Homo sapiens: one gene and its partners. The protein of the gene in region 1 interacts with the protein of each later gene in a pairwise test. Each region holds a gene or a part of one and is shown on either strand. Other genes may lie near its edges.

The links. Proteins that work in one complex are often made in the same cells at the same time.
Region 2: the proteins of SPG21 (region 1) and ARL6IP1 interact in binary tests that used the Homo sapiens proteins (3 or more experiments, as listed by UniProt).
Region 3: the proteins of SPG21 (region 1) and TXNL4B interact in binary tests that used the Homo sapiens proteins (3 or more experiments, as listed by UniProt).

The regions. Positions count from the first base shown.
Region 1 is NC_000015.10:64,962,485-64,965,916, reverse strand, and holds the end of SPG21 (maspardin), read left to right. Parts: intron 1-456; coding exon 457-597; intron 598-2,180; coding exon 2,181-2,297; 3' UTR 2,298-2,895; downstream 2,896-3,432. UniProt on the Homo sapiens protein: May play a role as a negative regulatory factor in CD4-dependent T-cell activation.
Region 2 is NC_000016.10:18,791,550-18,798,588, reverse strand, and holds the end of ARL6IP1 (ADP-ribosylation factor-like protein 6-interacting protein 1), read left to right. Parts: intron 1-544; coding exon 545-664; intron 665-3,007; coding exon 3,008-3,125; intron 3,126-3,905; coding exon 3,906-3,990; intron 3,991-5,218; coding exon 5,219-5,337; 3' UTR 5,338-6,920; downstream 6,921-7,039. UniProt on the Homo sapiens protein: Positively regulates SLC1A1/EAAC1-mediated glutamate transport by increasing its affinity for glutamate in a PKC activity-dependent manner.
Region 3 is NC_000016.10:72,090,621-72,097,623, reverse strand, and holds the start of TXNL4B (thioredoxin-like protein 4B), read left to right. Parts: upstream 1-4,003; 5' UTR 4,004-4,257; intron 4,258-6,837; 5' UTR 6,838-6,874; coding exon 6,875-7,003. Other genes in the region: DHX38 (pre-mRNA-splicing factor ATP-dependent RNA helicase PRP16), read right to left, coding at 615-802, 1,144-1,466. UniProt on the Homo sapiens protein: Essential role in pre-mRNA splicing. Required in cell cycle progression for S/G(2) transition.

The DNA.
Region 1 (3,432 bases):
CAGCCTGGCCAACATGGTGAAACCCCATCTCTACTAAAAATGCAAAAATTAGCCAGGCGTGATGGCGCATGCCTGTAGTCCCAGGTACTTAGGAGGCTGAGGCAGGAGAATCACTTGAGCCCAGGAGGTGGAGATTGCAGTGAGCCGAGATCACACCACTGCACTCTACCTCAAAAAAAAAAAAAGAATTTCCCCCCACCAAAAGAATGCAGGAGATGCTGTGCAGCAAAATCTGTAGCTAATGTCTTCGGTTGGAGTTATAAGTCACCAGGGATCAGCAGTGGAGGTAGTTCAGGCTGCTGGGGGTTCAGGATTGTCTTCATATGAAAGGAATACTTAGGGTAACATTTCCATAATGTGAAAAGAACATATTAAAACACTAGTTGATTACAGCTTTCTGTATGTGTGTGTGTGTTTTACCTTTCCTATGGTGCTGAAGCTTTGTGTTTTTTAAAGGTGTTTGATCAGAGTGCGCTTTCAACTGAAGCTAAAGAAGAAATGTACAAGCTGTATCCTAATGCCCGAAGAGCTCATCTGAAAACAGGAGGCAATTTCCCATACCTGTGCAGAAGTGCAGAGGTCAATCTTTATGTACAGGTAAGGCCTAGCTTGAAACCCAGAGCACTCTGAGCCCAACATATGTTTGCAACATAAAGACTTCTTTTAATGGACTAGTTAGGGAATCAGTGAACTACAGAATTCCTTGTAGAAATGAGGCATTGACTTGATAAAAGTGGTTTACATTTATAACTTGTAGGAGAATTTGAACAGGTATATTAGAGATCCCCCAGTGACTCTCTGGCCACCATCCCTTTTCTAAGGACAGCAGGCCTGCATTCACACACTGAGGTTACTATTGGTATGATGTGACCTTGCCCTCTGGACACAGTGAATTCCATCAGAGCAAGACACCAGACCTAAATGGGGTCAATCTGAGTCCTGTGAAGTGACTTCTTGATCTAATTTTAATGCATTAAAAGAAAACCCTACCAGGCGTAGTGGCTCATGCCTGTAATCTCAGCACTTTGCGAGGCTGAGGCAGGCAGATCACAAGGTCAGGAGGTCAAGACCAGCCTGGCCAATATGGTGAAACCGTCTCTACTAAAAATACAAAAAAAATTAGCTGGACGTGGTGGTGCACACCTGTAGTCCCAGCTACTCGGGAGGCTGAGGCAGAAGAATCACTTGAATCCTGGAGGCAGAGGTTGCAGTGAGCCGAGGTCACGCCATTGCACTCCAGCCTGGGCAACAGAACAAGACTCCGTCTCAAAAAAAAAGAAAAGAAAAGAAAGCCCTAACAAACACCATCCCTTCATACTCTAACTAAATGGATAATAGAATAGCAGTGAGGGGTGAGTGCCCTGGCAGTTTGGCAAGATGAATCAAGAGCCTTAAAAAACCAGTTATATCCTGGCCACGCATGGTGGCTCACACCTGTAATCCCAAAAACCAGTCATATCCCTTGATCCTGTCATCCCCTTATAGAAGACAGGATCCTAAACAGGAATACTTGATGCCCAGAGATATTCATCATAGCAGCACTAGTCACAGTAGCAGAAGATTGGAAGGACCTAACTCACAGCAGCAGAAGGGAAGGGTAAACATCTCATGAGCATGCACCATCTAAGATGTCTCAGGAGACTCTGCAGGGACTCAGGGAGACTGCTCAGGGAGTGAGGAACAAAGATCCCAAATGTGGTTTCAAAAAATTGTTTGACTTTTCTCTATTTAGTATGTCTTAGTCTGTAAATTTTAGAAGTATAAAACATTTGTCCACTATGGTGATGTTTTCCTACCAAACTTTTTATAGAAGGCAGTATACATTTTACTCTGTAATGCAGCCATTTAAAACAATGATTCTGGCAGGGTGCAGTGGCTCACACCTGTAATCTGGCACTTTGGGAGGCCGAGGCAGATGGATCACTTGAGGCCAGGAGTTCAAAACCAGCCTGGCCAACATGGTGAAACCCTGTCTCTACTAAAAATACAAAAATTAGCTGGGCATGGTGGCGGGCACCTGTAATCCCAGCTACTCGGGAGGCTGAGGCAGGAGAATTGGGTGAACCCGGGAGGCGGAGGTTGGAGTGAACCAAGATAGTGCCACTGCACTCCAGCCTGGGCAACAAGAGTGACACTCCAGCTCAAAAAATAAATAAAATAATGATTCTGCATTTCAACAGATACATTTGCTGCAATTCCATGGAACCAAATACGCGGCCATTGACCCATCAATGGTCAGTGCCGAGGAGCTTGAGGTGCAGAAAGGCAGCCTTGGCATCAGCCAGGAGGAGCAGTAGTGTGTCTCTCGCTGTCAATGATGAGTTGACCCGGTGTGTTCTTGTATAGTCAGTGGCATCAGCACCCGTCAGCCAGCCTTTTCCTTCAGGTTCGTCAGGCTCACCGGTTCTCACTGTGTCTGGGAAGTAGGACTGATGGTCATCTTCATGACAGGCGGCATCTCCACTAAGCCTGTGTAACTGTTCCCTCTTTGGTTTTCTTAGCTTTTGAATTTGAAGAAGTACTTTTGAAGACTCCCATTTTAAGAACCGTGCAAATTTTGCTACCAAAAGTCTTCACCACTGTGTTCTTAAGTGAATGTTAATTTCTGAGGTTTGGGACTTTGTGGTGGTTTTTTTCTTCTTTTCTTTTCCATTCTTCTTTCTTTCTTTTTATGTTGTTTGCTGTAAATGCTGCACATCCAGATTGCATATCAGGACATTGGTTATTTTATGCTTTCTTGGATATAACCATGATCAGAGTGCCATGGCCACTACCCCACTGTTTGCTCTCCTGCAAATCAACTGCTTTTAATTTACACTTAAACAAATTGTTTTGAGTGTTAGCTACTGCCTTTCTAGATATTAGTCATTTGGAATAAAAATTCAATTTAACTGAGTCGCTTTTGTGATTATTGTTGCTGCCCAACTGGGCTACACAGGCCTAGGACTTTCTGAGAAGTAGGTCATGGTTGCCAATTCTGTGTGACTTTGGGTAAGTTACTTAATCTCCCTGAAGTACAGTTTGCACATCATAAAATAACCCTAAGCTATCATTTATTGATCTGCTACTGTGTGCCAGGTACTTTTCTCGTCTTCTTTCCCCTGAGTGAAAATGCTTAAACCCACATGAAGTAGAGAAAATGGCATAATGAATGATGTTCCCATCATCCAGCTTCAAAAATTATCAACTCTCAGACAGTCTTGTTCATCTTTTCTTTTTTTTTTTTTTGAGACAGAGTTTCGCTCTTGTTGCCCAGGCTGGAGTGCAATGACGTGATCTCGGCTCACCGCAACCTCCGCCTCCCGGGTTCAAGCAATTCTTCTGCCTCAGCCTCCCAAGTAGCTGAGATTACAGGTATGCACCACCACGCCCGGCTAATTTTGTATTTTTAGTAGAGATGGGGTTTCTCCATGTTGGTCAGGCTAGTCTCGA
Region 2 (7,039 bases), on another chromosome or scaffold:
AAGAACCCATAAAGAATGTTTCTCATAAGCACTTCTAGTTTCCAGAATTTGTAGTACTTCTGTAAACTTGGTAACCTAAAGCACTTGAGTAAATCAGTGACTCGCAAACTTTTTGTCCTCCAGACACTTAAACTCTTTTTTTGTTATTATACTTTAAGTTCTGGGAAACATGTGTAGAATGTACAGGTTTGTTACATAGGTATATATACATGTGCCATGGTGGTTTGCTGCACCCATCAACCCTTCATCTACATTAGGTATTTCTCCTAATGCTATCCCTCCCCTAGTCCCCCACCTCCCTAAACTCTTAAAAAAGTGCTGAGAACTCCAAAGAGCTTTTGTCCATTGATATATACTTAACCACTGCAGCTATGATATCAGCATGTCACAAAGCCTCTGGAAAGCCACTTGTGAGAAAATTAGAAGAAAAATGGCAAATATCTCTGAGAGGCGGTGAATAGTTAAGTGAATAGTTAAGTTAGACATGTTTAGTTAGGAATAATAATGACTATGTTTTTCTAACCTTTATTAATTTTTTTAACAGGATTATCTACTATCTAGATCCATCTGTTCTGTCCGGCGTTTCCTGTTTTGTTATGTTTTTGTGCTTGGCTGACTACCTTGTTCCCATTCTAGCGCCTAGAATTTTTGGCTCCAATAAATGGTAGGTAGCATAATGATTTGGCAGTCTCATTTTTGTGTAGTTACTGAACTTGGTGGCTGTGATTAGTATGCTGTAAATAAGCAGAGATAATTGTCTAACCATCAGACACCTAAGCATTAGATTTATTGCTTTTATGTGAAGAATATTGTAACTGATTTGAATATAAACTATGAATTTTCTGTACTCCATAGTTCTTTTATGGTAAATGCACATATACATTTTTACATTTCCATTGATATTTAGGATAGTATAATAACTTCACAAATTATTTTTGAATGAATACAGAAAAGGAAACTGGCAGATTTTCATTCACATTCATTTAGCAATTATTTATTAAATGCCTACTGTGGCAGGCCCTGTAAAGTACTGTGAAATATTTTGACTTTTAAGATTGATCTTGTGTTAAGGCTGAGATACTGAGACACTGAGGCAGTGGAATGGCAGTTAACAAAGTGAATACCAAGTGTTTCCGAAGAGGTTCAAGCTGTATACACATGGGTTGCTGATTTTATTTATACCATTCTCTTTTTTTTTTTTTTTTTTGAGATGGAGGCTCGCTCTGTTGCCCAGGCTGGAGTGCAGTACGCTCTTGGCTCACTGCATGCTCCACCTCCCAGGTTCATGCCATTCTCTTGCCTCAGCCTCCCGAGTAGCTGGGACTACAGGTGCCCACCACCACACCTGGCTAATTTTTTTTTTTTTTATTTTTAGTAGAGACGGGGTTTCACCATGTTAGCCAGGATGGTCTCGATCTCCTGACCTTGTGATCCGCCCGCCTCGGCCTCCCAAAGTGCTGAGATTACAGGCGTGAGCCACCGTGCCCGGCCTATTTATACCATGAGGTTGCTTATGAACTCCTCAGATATAGTTAAGTGGATAAGGATCATATTAAAAGTATTTTAACTTTCTCTAGCATGTTGAGTTTTGATTCAAATAATCAGCCAAAATAGAAGTTGGAATAGATATTTTCTTCTCAGCTGCTATTCTATCCTTGGCTGTTTATTTTATTTGGTTAGTATTCTACTTGTGCCTTTGGTTGTTTGTATCTCAGAGGATAGCAAATTGCAAAATAATTCTGTAAATATAAGAATTTTAAATGTGTACCTTATGGATCTTTAAGAACAAATTCAAAGTTTGCTTAAATTATGATATAATTGACAATATTTAAAGGTGTTTCCCCCAACAGCAGAATGGATTAGTGTTAGGAACTGTCCAAATTGTTTTTCACTTGCAGTAATGAATCAATGTTGTTGGCTCTTTTGGGCAAGTTTCTGAATGTGCAGTATAACAGAGTTAGCAAAGGAAATAAATCACTGACCTTGGCCTTATTAGCCAGATAACATTCCAGTCTGCTAATTTATAACTCCTAGAGGAAAGTTTGCAGAAATAACCACTGATAGTTTCGTGATGTGACTCAGTTATTGATAGAGCAGATTTTGTTTATTTTTTGATCTTACAAGGAAGAAAGAATACTCTTTTGCATAGCCACAATCTAGCCTTGACCATGGGCAAGAAATAACATCTCATTGTTGAAAAGAAGTTCCAGGGCTCAGCAGAAATCCTTGTACTTTATCTATCACTGCAGTTTTACAGAGATGAGGGCTAGAGAAGAGAAGGCAACACATCCCTCAGCACAGGGCAATAATAGCAGCCATTATAGCTGTGTAGCGAAGACAGTGCAAAGGCAATTAAAAAAATCAGAACCAAGAAAAACATTATAAATATAAAAGGTTTTCTTGGAGGGTCTCTTGTTGGATTTTTACTGCTGTGTTGTTTGTTGATTATATTTTCCCTCCCTAGGGATAAATTTACAAAGAAGAATTTAGATTTGAGCTGTTTATTGCTGCCTTGTCATCAGATGTATGAAGCCCAGTTGGGGGTGTTATGTGTTAAATGCCAGTAGTTAGTATCTTACTAAGGAGTGTTCAAATACAGTTGTTCGGTGGGATTCTGGTAGGTATAGTGCAGCATTTACTAGGATCTAAAGAATATTTAGGAATAGCAAAATCAAATTTATACTGATTTCTTTATGGCCCATAGAAGTCATGAGTCTTTTACTACCATTAAATAAATGTGGCTTCAGAGCCAGAGATGATCCTTTCTTTATCACACGCACACACACACACACTCTCTCTCTCACACACATAGTTTATGTAAATACTTACTCCTGTGCTATAAAAGGTGTCTTAATGGTGGAAGGATTTTTTCACCTACATAAGATAATGGTGAAACATTGTTTTTATTTTTATTTTCTTTAGAAGATAGCTCTTAAATTGAACAGGGTGTCATGTTTTTGTCTACTGTAACGATTTGTTTATAGCAAAAGGCAAATTTCTTTTCTAGGACCACTGAACAACAGCAAAGATTCCATGAAATTTGCAGCAATCTAGTAAAAACTCGACGCAGAGCTGTGGGTTGGTGGAAACGCCTCTTCACACTAAAGGAAGAAAAACCTAAGATGGTACTTTTTTTGCTTTGACTTAAGTACAGTAAAATTTTAAGATTTGAGTCAATTCGCCTTTTTGTCTTAATAGCTATAATTTGAAAATTATTCATTGGTTAATTCCTAAGTACATTCATAAATGTTTACCTGTATTAATTAGACTGAATCATTTTAAAGTTAAAAATTACATTTTTGCATTTAATTTTTTATTCTAATAAAACAAAATTCTTCTGTTTCATTTTTCTTACTGAAATAATAGTAAAAGACATATACTTAGAAAGCATCTGTTTAGGCCGGGCACAGTGGCTAATGCCTATAATCCCAGCTACATGGAAGGCTGAGGATCACTTGAGCCCTGGAGGTCGAGGCTGCAGTGAGCTGTGTTTGCGCAGTGAGCTGTTTGCACCACTGCACTCCAGCCTTTGTGACAGAATGAGACTCTGTCTCAAAAAAAAAAAAAAAAAAGGAAAGCATCTGTTCATCTGTTCTCTTATCTGTAAGCTTCACGTCGTGAGGCTGTTCCGTGAAGTTATTAACTGAAAAGATCGTATAATTTATATCATAAAATATTTACATACAGAATTGCAGTAATTCTAGGAAGAAATGTATCCAAATTCTATAAAGTAGATCCAATGGAATAGGTTTTTAAATCTAAGAATTTTTAAAGAAAAGTGATAATAAAAGCTAAATTATTTCCCGAACTTTGAAACACATTCTTCTTTAATTGACAAATAAAAATTACATATATTTATGGTGTCACATGAAGTTTTGATATTAAATTCTTGTTTTCATTGCTAGTACTTCATGACCATGATCGTTTCCCTTGCTGCGGTTGCTTGGGTGGGACAACAAGTCCACAACCTGCTTCTCACCTACCTGATAGGTAAGTCTTTGAGGAAAAACTACAGGCACATCCTGGCCAGTGAAATTTAACTGTAACTTCGTCAGTAAACAGCTGAATACTTCCTAAGTTTTAGACACCGAAAAGGAACTGTGGGAATATGGAAAGATTATTATGGTCTCATAGAAAGTGAAAACAATGCAATAACCAAGGTAGAAAGTAATGTGCAAGAGGTAAAAATAAGCAATGATTATTTTCTGAGGTGGAAGAGGGGATGAGAGCAGAAGTTTCTGGGGATACATCCCAGTGGAAGTAATTGATTTCATGTTGCTTCCTCCCATTACTGAGTTTAATAATGTAGGAACCTGCCTTCTTTAAAATGTAATAACTGGCTGGTCACGGTGGCTCAGCCTGTAATCCCAGCACTTTGGGAGGCTGAGGCAGGTGGATCACTTGAGGCCGGGAGTTTGAGACCAGCCTAGCCAACATGGCGAAACCCTGTCTCTACTAAAAATACAAAAATTAGTTGGATGTGGTGGTACACACCTGTAGTCCCAGCTACCTAGGAGGCTGAGGCATGAGAATCACCTGAACCCAGGAGGTGGAGGTTACAGTGAGCTGAGATCACACCACTGCACTCACCACCCCCCCCACCCACCACCGCCATACACACGTAATAACCTCTGATCACCTGAGGTCAGGAGTTGGAGACCGCCTGGCCAACATTGCGAAATCACATGTGTACTAAAAATACAAAAATTAGCCAGGCGTGGCGGCAGGCACCTGTAATCCCAGCTACTCTACTTGGTAGGGTGAGGCAGGAGAATCGCTTGAACCTGGGAGGTGGAGGTTGCAGTGAACCGAGATTGTGCCATTGCACTCCAGCCTGGGCAAAAAGAGTGAGACTTGTCGCTGGGTGTGGTGGCTCACGCCCGTAATCCCAGCACTCTGGGAGGCTGAAGCAGGCGGATCACCTGAGATTGGGAGTTCGAGACCAGCCTGACTAACATGGAGAAACCCCATCTCTACTAAAAATACAAAATTAGTCAGGCGTAGTGGCGCATGCCTGTAATCCCAGCTACTTGGGTAGCTGAGGCAGGAGAATCGCTTGAACCTGGGAGGCGGAGGTTGCGGTGAGCCAAGATTGCGCCATTGCACTCCAGCCTGGGCAACAAAAGTGAAACTTTGTCTCAAAAAAAAAAAAAAAAAGTAATAACCTTTAGCAGGTTAATTGCTGCCTCCTTAATGTTGGGTTTTTTTTTATTTTAAGTGACTTCCTTACTATTGCTTCCTGGACTAAACCAACATGGAATCATTTTGAAGTACATTGGAATGGCCAAGAGGGAGATAAACAAACTTCTCAAACAAAAAGAAAAGAAAAACGAATGATTCATCTGCTTTAATCAGTGTGATTAATGCAGCACCCATTGCCCCGGGAACCGTTTCTGCTGTACTATCTGGATACTAAAATGTTACGGAAGTAGCTCTTTGTTCTCCCTCACTCTGCCCTTAGTTAATAGAAATTCAGACTCGCCAAGTAAGGCTTCGTGCATAGTGTCTTCATGTCGCGTATAGTTGAGCGCGTTCTTAGCAGTTGGCTTCATGGACAACTCATTAGTGTTTTGACTTTTCTTACCCAGCGTTAATTGAATTCTTGCTTTTAGACAACTTCCTTTTTGTAGTGGTGAACCTTGCCCTTTAGTACAGTTCAAGTGAATCTGGATAATTGTTCATCTTTGCTTTAGCTTAGATACCATGTAGTGGTCTGTGGCTACAGGAAGCTGGTTCTGTCTGCTTCCACAGTCTGCTTAAAAAACTGTCTGACTTCGTGAATATAGAGACCAAGTTTACCACTTCTGATGAAGAGACCAATTAAGATTCATTCCTCATTCTGTTTCTTTCCAGTGGGAGAAGAGTCCCCATGAAATAAGATGAAACTGATTCCATGCACTAGTACATGTAGGCTTCTCCCTTGTGCAAAGCTTAGCAATTTGTAGGAAACTTTGATCTTTTTGTCCAAGAAAAGGAATGTCTGACAGGCTTAAGCTTTCGTCCCCTTGCACTTAGACTCGAAGTTAGTAAATCCTTAAAGGCTTTTTAATAGCAGACTTCCAAAAGATTGCATTTAGGATTTCTAGCATGCTTTTAATTTCAGATTTTCAGCTGACATTAGCTATAGTATACAGTAGGTTAAGACTCATGTCTATGACTTTCACTCTAAGACTGGCAAAAGGACAGCAGTCTTCTATGTTTAGTCAATATTCATTTCAGTAGAAGATAATCTTATCTAATTTTTGAGACCAGAATAAGCCTTTTAAGGTAAACCTCAAAATTATCATTTTATGGTAATACTGACCATTTTAGTCCCCTAGGTTTGACATGGGAGATAGTGACTACACTGGTGTCTGACTTTTTTCCTAGAGATTTCTCCCTGAAAAATACAAGGGCTGTTGGTGAGAGCAGACTTGAGGTGATGATAGTTGGCCTCTGGTCTACAAAGATTTCATAACTCCTTGGAAAGCTTCTTATAATCATTCTTAACTTCTTGGTAGCTAGAAATTTAGAGTAGTTGAAATCTTTAGGAATGAACTTCTGAGGGCCAAAAAATGTGACTGACGGGAACAATTCTTAAACTGATTAACTAGCTGTAATATAGTTTTGTGAATTTATTGCACTGATGTTGTACCTTGTGGTATATCTGTCCCTATTAAATAAGTGTTGTTTTCTCCTCTTTAATATTGCTGTGAACAGTGGTGCCCATTGTAGCATATGTTTGATTTTTTTTTATTATTTCATAAGAAAACTACGTTAATTTTACCTTACTTTCATTGTAAATAAGCCTGTCTTCCTATCTGGATTTTTTGTGTGCATACATATTCTACTGATTAACTACTTTTGCAGTTTTAATCCTGTATTATTTCTTCTACTTTGTTTTGTGTAAAAGGGGAAAAAATAAAAAAAGCTGGAATCTTCATGTCTCACTTTCTTTATAACTTAGCCAATATAATATTTATGATTGGATTTATGAATCTGATTAATGAAGTACCCTGTGTGGTCCTTAGATGTCTATAAGGTACCCTACCTGTAATCC
Region 3 (7,003 bases), on another chromosome or scaffold:
CATCTTCACCCTAGAGAAAGGACAGGCTGCCCACTCACTCACAGGTGCAACCTGCACTGCTCGAATGTGATCCGTGGACTCCTGAAACTCACCTATCCCCATTCTCCCAAGGGGGAAAAATAGTTACTGCCTAGAAAATTTCAAACCCACAGTAACAGTTATTTTCCAGCAAGAATTCAAAAAATACTAGTGCGAGTTTACAGTGAATCATTTTTTTTAATAGTTACAATTCTATCAGCTATAAAACTTAATACTGAGCAAGGACAGCATTGGATTTTTTTGTCTAGCTTTGTTCCATAGCACTGTCCTTTCTCTATCACCAATACTATTAGAAATGCTGGTCTCTTATACATATTTACCCATTATCTCCTTTATCATCAATTTTCATAATAAAACGAAGACCACACACTCAAGGAGAGCAGCTATGTTACAGGCAACAGCTCTTTTCTTAAACTAGTATTCCCAATCCCAGCAGGGTCAAAACCACTCAGGCGGACATCATGCAAATAGGACTCCCTAACAAATGGGTGTTGCAAAAACTCCTGCAACAAGAAAAAGGCTGACACATTTATTCGAATGCTAATGGACAATAGGAACTGTGCTGGACAGTTTACCTCTGTCCCTCTTGCGGTCATAGTCTCGATCCCGCGATTTCTCCTTCTTCCAATCCTTTTCTTCTTTGGACGAGGCATAGACACCATGTTCCCGCCGCTCCCGCTCTCTCTGCCGACTGCGTTCCCAAAACTCTTCGCTCACACCACCCGGATGGGATGGAGTCTCTACCCGAGCAGACCGATAATGTCTGAAACAGGGAGAGCAACTGGTAAAGGCCCCTCCATAGGAGAAAAACTCTGCCCTAAAACCTTTGGCTGTCCAAACAAGTGATCTGTCCTTTTCCACTTTCTCTCCCTGGGACGCAGGCTCACATATGGCAACAACCCAAGGCATTTCTAACCTCTACCATCTCGTCTTTATTCACCTTTGTTTTTCCCCACAAATTCCTACCTACCTTCAGTATTACAGAATCATAATAAAATCATAAAGCTCTAAATCTCCAACAGGAAAACTGAGAGATAAACATGAGCTGTTATTTTCCAGCCTCCGTTCGCTTCCCTCTGGGCTAACCCATACTAAGGCCTTTACCTGTCTTTCCGGATATTTTGGCCAGCCTGGTCACCGCCCTCTTCCTCAGCATCCTTCTGGTCATCCTTGCTCTCTTCCCAGTCCTTGTAGGAGGAGACTTTGGACTTCTTCTTGTCCTCCCCATCGTCCTTCTCCTCTCGCTCTCTCCGTTTCAGGGAAGCCAGCAAGTCCAGTCCGAGTAATGAAGGGCGGGGAGCAGGAGCCTTGAAGACATGCTGCTCGCTGGCCGCACTTTTGGACTTGCAAATAAGACCACCAACCTGACAGTCCAGATCAGTGCCTTCCAATCGATGGATCGAGGCATCCTCACTGGTGTCCCCCATCACAGGATCTGGGATTTCTCTGGAAGGAAGGCAAACCATTTGGTACTAGAGAAGGCTCAGCTCTACTATATCCCACAATAAATGCAGTTATGGTTATATGTAGGTGATTAACCTTCCCCATCTCCCCTTAAGACCAGGACTACTTTTGCTCCCTCTCTCCAAGACCTTTCCATCAAGTCACTGCCTATCTCCAAAGATTCTCCTATTCCAACCCCCAATAAACACCAAAATAGATACACACACACACACACACACACACACACCCCATACATTCCTCCCCAGCCCCCACAAAGATCCAAGAGGCAATAAAAAGTCTCACTAAGGGACACTTTCTAGAGCCTGATGTCAGCAGCTGTAACAGGGATGTAGGGAAAACACCACTAAATTTGAATCAGAAACCTCAATTAGAAACCAGGCTCTTGACACTTTCTACCTGTATGATGGTAAGCAAATAACTTAATCTTTGTTTAGCCATAATTTCATATCTATTAAATGGAAAAAATTTTTACCTTATCTAATCCATGAAGCTATTGTGAGAATCAAACAAAAAGTGTATGTGAAACCATAAAGAGTAGCTCTTTATGTAACCATAACAGTTAACATAAATGTAACTGCTACATTGTATTATTTGCTATCCTCCTATATACTGTTGGTCCCTCACCCATTTTTTTACATGAGTTCTACCTCTTCCTCTCTTTAAACAACAGGTACAGCAGCACAGAGATGGGGCAGAAGGCTACCGTCCATGTTCTCCATACTTTAGTGGCTTTTCTTGGCCTAGCTGCGTTTTACAGAAAACAATTTACTCACAGCAGCCAAAATCAGTTTAATAACAATCCATGTTCACCAAAAATATTTATGAGAAACACCAGGTTAGGAAAAGGTGTTACTGAGAAGTATTTAAGTGGCTACAAGACTTCTGGCACTCAAGTTGGAACAAGCTCCTCTTTACCTCTCACTACACATCTGCCACTCATCAACATATATCAGTTCTGGATGCTTGGATAATTCCTCTCATTCCAACAAGTTAGCAAAGCAAAGGAGATGCCACCAGAATCCAGAATTGTTTACCAAACTCTAATTAAATGCACAGCTCTACAGAGTATTGCCAAACAGACTGGACACATAATATTAATGCAGAAACAAGAGTTACATTTTGAAAATGCCATCAGGCAGAACAGAAAAAAAGAAAGCTGCATATTGGTGACATCTGTGCGCATGTGAGGAAATCCACACAAGAAGGTAAAGATATACAGGCTCTACTCAATAGTTGTCTAAACTAGGAAAGGTACCCTGGACTGCCATTCTACGCAGTTGAGAGAACACTGGATGTGTTGTTGACTGCTGTAGCTCAATGTCTAGCAAAATAAGCGTTTGATAAATTAAAAAATGAATTAATTTAAACTTATTAAAGGAGGACAGGAACCCAAACATTTCTGGAGACAGCAAGGGAAGATTCCAGCAACACAGGACAAGGAGACAGCCAGAGAGAACTTCATTAGCTGCTGAGACGAACAAATAAGGAGCTAAAGAGCAAGATTCTTGAGAAGGATTAATGGCAAAGAAACTACAAGGCGTACGAGAAAGCCAGGGAAGAAAGAACCTGGATTCATTCATTCAACAATTATTCACTGAGGGTGTCCCTGAGCCAATTGCTGTTCTCGGCGATAGCAACAGAGAACAAGACAAAAATCCCCGCCCACCTGGAGCTGACATTCTAGTAGAAGAGATCGCCCACCAGATTGCCTGGTATAAATGACACTGTGAGAGAGCAGAGGAAGACACAAGGAGTCCTACTCGGGCTCGGTGACAGTCTGGGGTGGGTTAAAGCGGAGGCCTGGGAGAGGGACCAAGGCCACTCCAGGCAGCATCCCTGGATCTCAGCGAGGCCGCTCCAGGCAGCAGGATTTGACCAGAGCAAGGAGGAAGGCCAAGGCGGCCAGGACGGATGCAGCATCCCTGAGGTGAGTAAGGCAAGGTGGGTGACAGGGACGACAGAGGAACTCCCCAAACTGGGGCCCGGACCTGAGCAGGGGACCAATATCCGCCGCCTAGAGCCGCCATGATTACAGAAGGGCAGGCCAGGAAGGAAGAAGGGACTCTCACCTCACCAAGCGCGACTCTTGGGACCCTTCTGTCCCGGATTCTGGGGCGCCGGCGCTGCCACCCCTCGCTCAGACAGGCTCAAGGAGCCAAAATCCACACCTTGAAAGCGGCCATTATTGTCCCTTAATACTTTGCGCGCCCCCTCTATCCGCCCAAAGCTACCATAGAGAGCAGCCTGGAACACGCCCGATTCCTGGATCCAAGTGTGGAACGGTACGCCAACAGGCTCTCAAGGCCTCCTCTGGGGCTCTGATCAGACACTTCCGAGTCTCCTTGTGACCAATCACTCTTAGCCTAAGAGACTACATCCCGCCTCTAGTCTGGGGGCAGGAAAAGGAGGGGAAAAAGGTCGACCATCTTTAATACGGGCGGAGGTGACGCCTAGCTTCCGGTCAGAGCCGAGCAAGGTGGGCGGTGACTAGAAGCTCTTCCGTTTATTGGGCTGTTGAGCGGGGGCCGACCGACGGCCAGGAGTTTCTTTTCTGCGCTTGTGCGTTTTCTGTTCGGTTTCCTTCCCGCTAGCGGGGCCACGAGGGTTGCTAGGCAACAGCCCCTGGGTGACTTGGTCTTAGGGTCCTGTCCGGCTTGGGGCTGATGAAAGGAGCTGTCCGCGCCCGGGCTCTTCCGAGAAGTGGTTGCTGACAGCCACAAAGTGAAAGGGAGTGAGGCGGCGTGGACGAGTAAGGTAAGTGCTGGGGTCCCTTAGCGCTTGTGGGCCAGGAGCAGCGCAACACAGGTGACTTTAAATATGTATATCGGATATTTTGGAAAATGGAGATGCGCGCCCGGCTGTAAATAAAAATCACCCATGCGTTCACACGCAGAGATGACCACTGATTTCCAGTTGTTTTTCTGGAATACATTGTAGTAAGATTCTGTACAAAAGTGAGTTCAAGCTTTTTTTCTTTTTTTGGTGTTTCTGCAGTTGTGGCGCGCGCCTGAGGTTCCAGCTACTCGGGAGGCTGAGGCGGGAGGATTGCTTGAGCCTGGGGAGTTGAGACCAGCCTGGGCAACATAGCGAAACCCCGCCTCAGAAAAAGAGAGGGAGAGAGGAAAGCAGTGGAGTTATTGGTCAAAGAGTATGTCAGTTTTCTTTCCAGAAAGGTTTTGTGTCTGCATTCCAGCAGGAACTCCCTGTGCCTGCCCCTACCACTATCTTGTTTAATTTTTGCCAATTCAGTGACTTTGTAAACATATGTTTTAATTTGCTTTTCTTTGCTTACTGGTAAAGCTTAACTTTTTAGTTTATTTACTGTCCATTTGTACGTCTTCTTTTGGGAATTCTCTGTGGGTATCATTTACTATGGACATTTTCTTAGATGTGGTCTCAGTTTTCCTCTCCTGCTTCCAACGTTTGTCCAGTTGCACCCCTAGCCTCACCACTAACAACTTTGTTCTCCCCTTACTTTCTCCTTTCGATCAGTAACACGGAGGAACTGCTGTTTGTTTGAATTCTAGTGGGACAGATCCGTCTTCTCTTTGACCTTCCCTTTCATTGGTAATTTGTTCTGCTGCTCACATCTGATGACGTCCCTTTGGGCCATCAATGTCCCTGTTTAAAGTATGACCTATAGCTGGAACAATCTTATTTCCTATGTGAATTTTAGTTAAATAATTCCTTTTTTTTTTTTTGGAGACGGAGCTTCGCTCTTGTTGCCTTGCCCAGGCTGGAGTGCAGTGGAGCGATCCTAGCTCACTGCAACCTCCGCCTCCAGGGTTCAAGCAATTCTCCTGCCTCAGCCTCCTGAGTAGCTTGGATTACAGGTGGCATCTGCCACCACGCCCGGCTAATTTTTTGTATTTTTAGTAGAGACGGGGTTTCACCATGTTGGCCAGGCTGGTCTCGAATTCCTGGCCATAGGTGATCCACCCTCCTTGGCCTCCCAAAGTGCTGGGATTACAGGGGTGAGCCTGGCCTAATTCGTATCTTAAAATGTGACTTGTGACAAAAAAAATAGGAAAAGAAATCCTCCCTTTTCATATTTGGAACTGAATTCAAAATACCGACCATCTCAATGGAGTCTCTTATAGATGACCACAAAACTAAGCTTCTTTGTCAAAGAGTTTCTCAAAAATGAAATTTCTACCAATCATGAAAATAGATTATTGTAGTAGAAGGACCCCTGGACTAGAAATTTGGTGGCCTGTATTCTAGTCCTTGTCATTGTAGTAGAAAGTGCAACTGTAAGCAAGCTAGTTTGTAAAATGACGGGGTTGTATTAGGTCCCTTGTACCTCAGTATTTTATTATTTGTTTATGGTATTGTAGTTTTCACACACACTCTTAATTGATCTGTTTGCCGTGTAATGAGGTGCACCTAGTAAGGTGCACACGAAGAATCTTTAAGCCAGGACTTGTAATAATATAAAGTATACAATAAAGGACTGTTTAAAAAGTGTAACACATGCAAGAAATAATATGCTGCCATGACAGAGAATATGGATGTTCTCTATATAGAGATATGGGGCAATCTTCATAGGTTAGGTTTGAAATAATGAAAAGTGCTGAAGAGTAGATAAAGTGTGTGTGCTGAACATCTGCCATTGGTCCCTCCACAGCCATTCTTCATCCTCCTCTAGACTGCTCTGGGACAGGGAGGTTTGCCTGCCTCAACAGGCCCCTGCCCTCTGGTTCCAGTTGGAGTCAGCCGGTGGTTGCATGAGCAAAGGTCAGAGGGAGGGAGGAGAGTGGCTGCAACACCTAACAGCAGGCTGCCCTCCTATACACTGTCCTCTCCACTCACCTCTTTCTGCCACACAATTCTTATAACTGCTTCCTACCGTGGCTTCTTCCTCCCATGGCCTAGGGATGGGTACAGCATCCCGCTGTTACTAGCCCCAAAGTAGTACACTTTACCGTATTGTTTTTCTACACCTGCCTTAATTAAACTGCCTTCAAATTACCAAAGTTGAGAGTGTCATCGCTTTCCTGCTGGAACACTGATACAATAGGCTATCTTTTGGGGGTGGGGAGAGAGAGAAAAAAAATATCGGAACGCATATTTGTATTTTTTGGTGAATGCATAACAAAACTCTGAAAGATACATGAGAAACTAATGAAAGCAGTTATCTGGCCCGGGGGAGGGAACAATGAAAACTGGTTCCAAGGAGCAGGGACAAAGAGAGGGAAACTCCACAGTGTTACCTTTCTATGATGTTTCTTTCATACCATGTGAATACATTAGCTACTCTGTGAATTAATTTTTTTTAATGAGGGCTCACGCACTTAATCTAAACTGTCTTTAAACATTGCACCTTTATTTCAGGAGTGACAGTGAGGATTCACATTTGGGTTATTTCAAGATGAGCTTCCTACTGCCCAAGCTGACTAGCAAAAAGGAAGTAGACCAGGCGATAAAAAGTACTGCTGAGAAGGTGTTGGTTCTCAGGTTTGGGAGAGATGAAGATCCTGTCTGTCTGCAGCTAGATGAT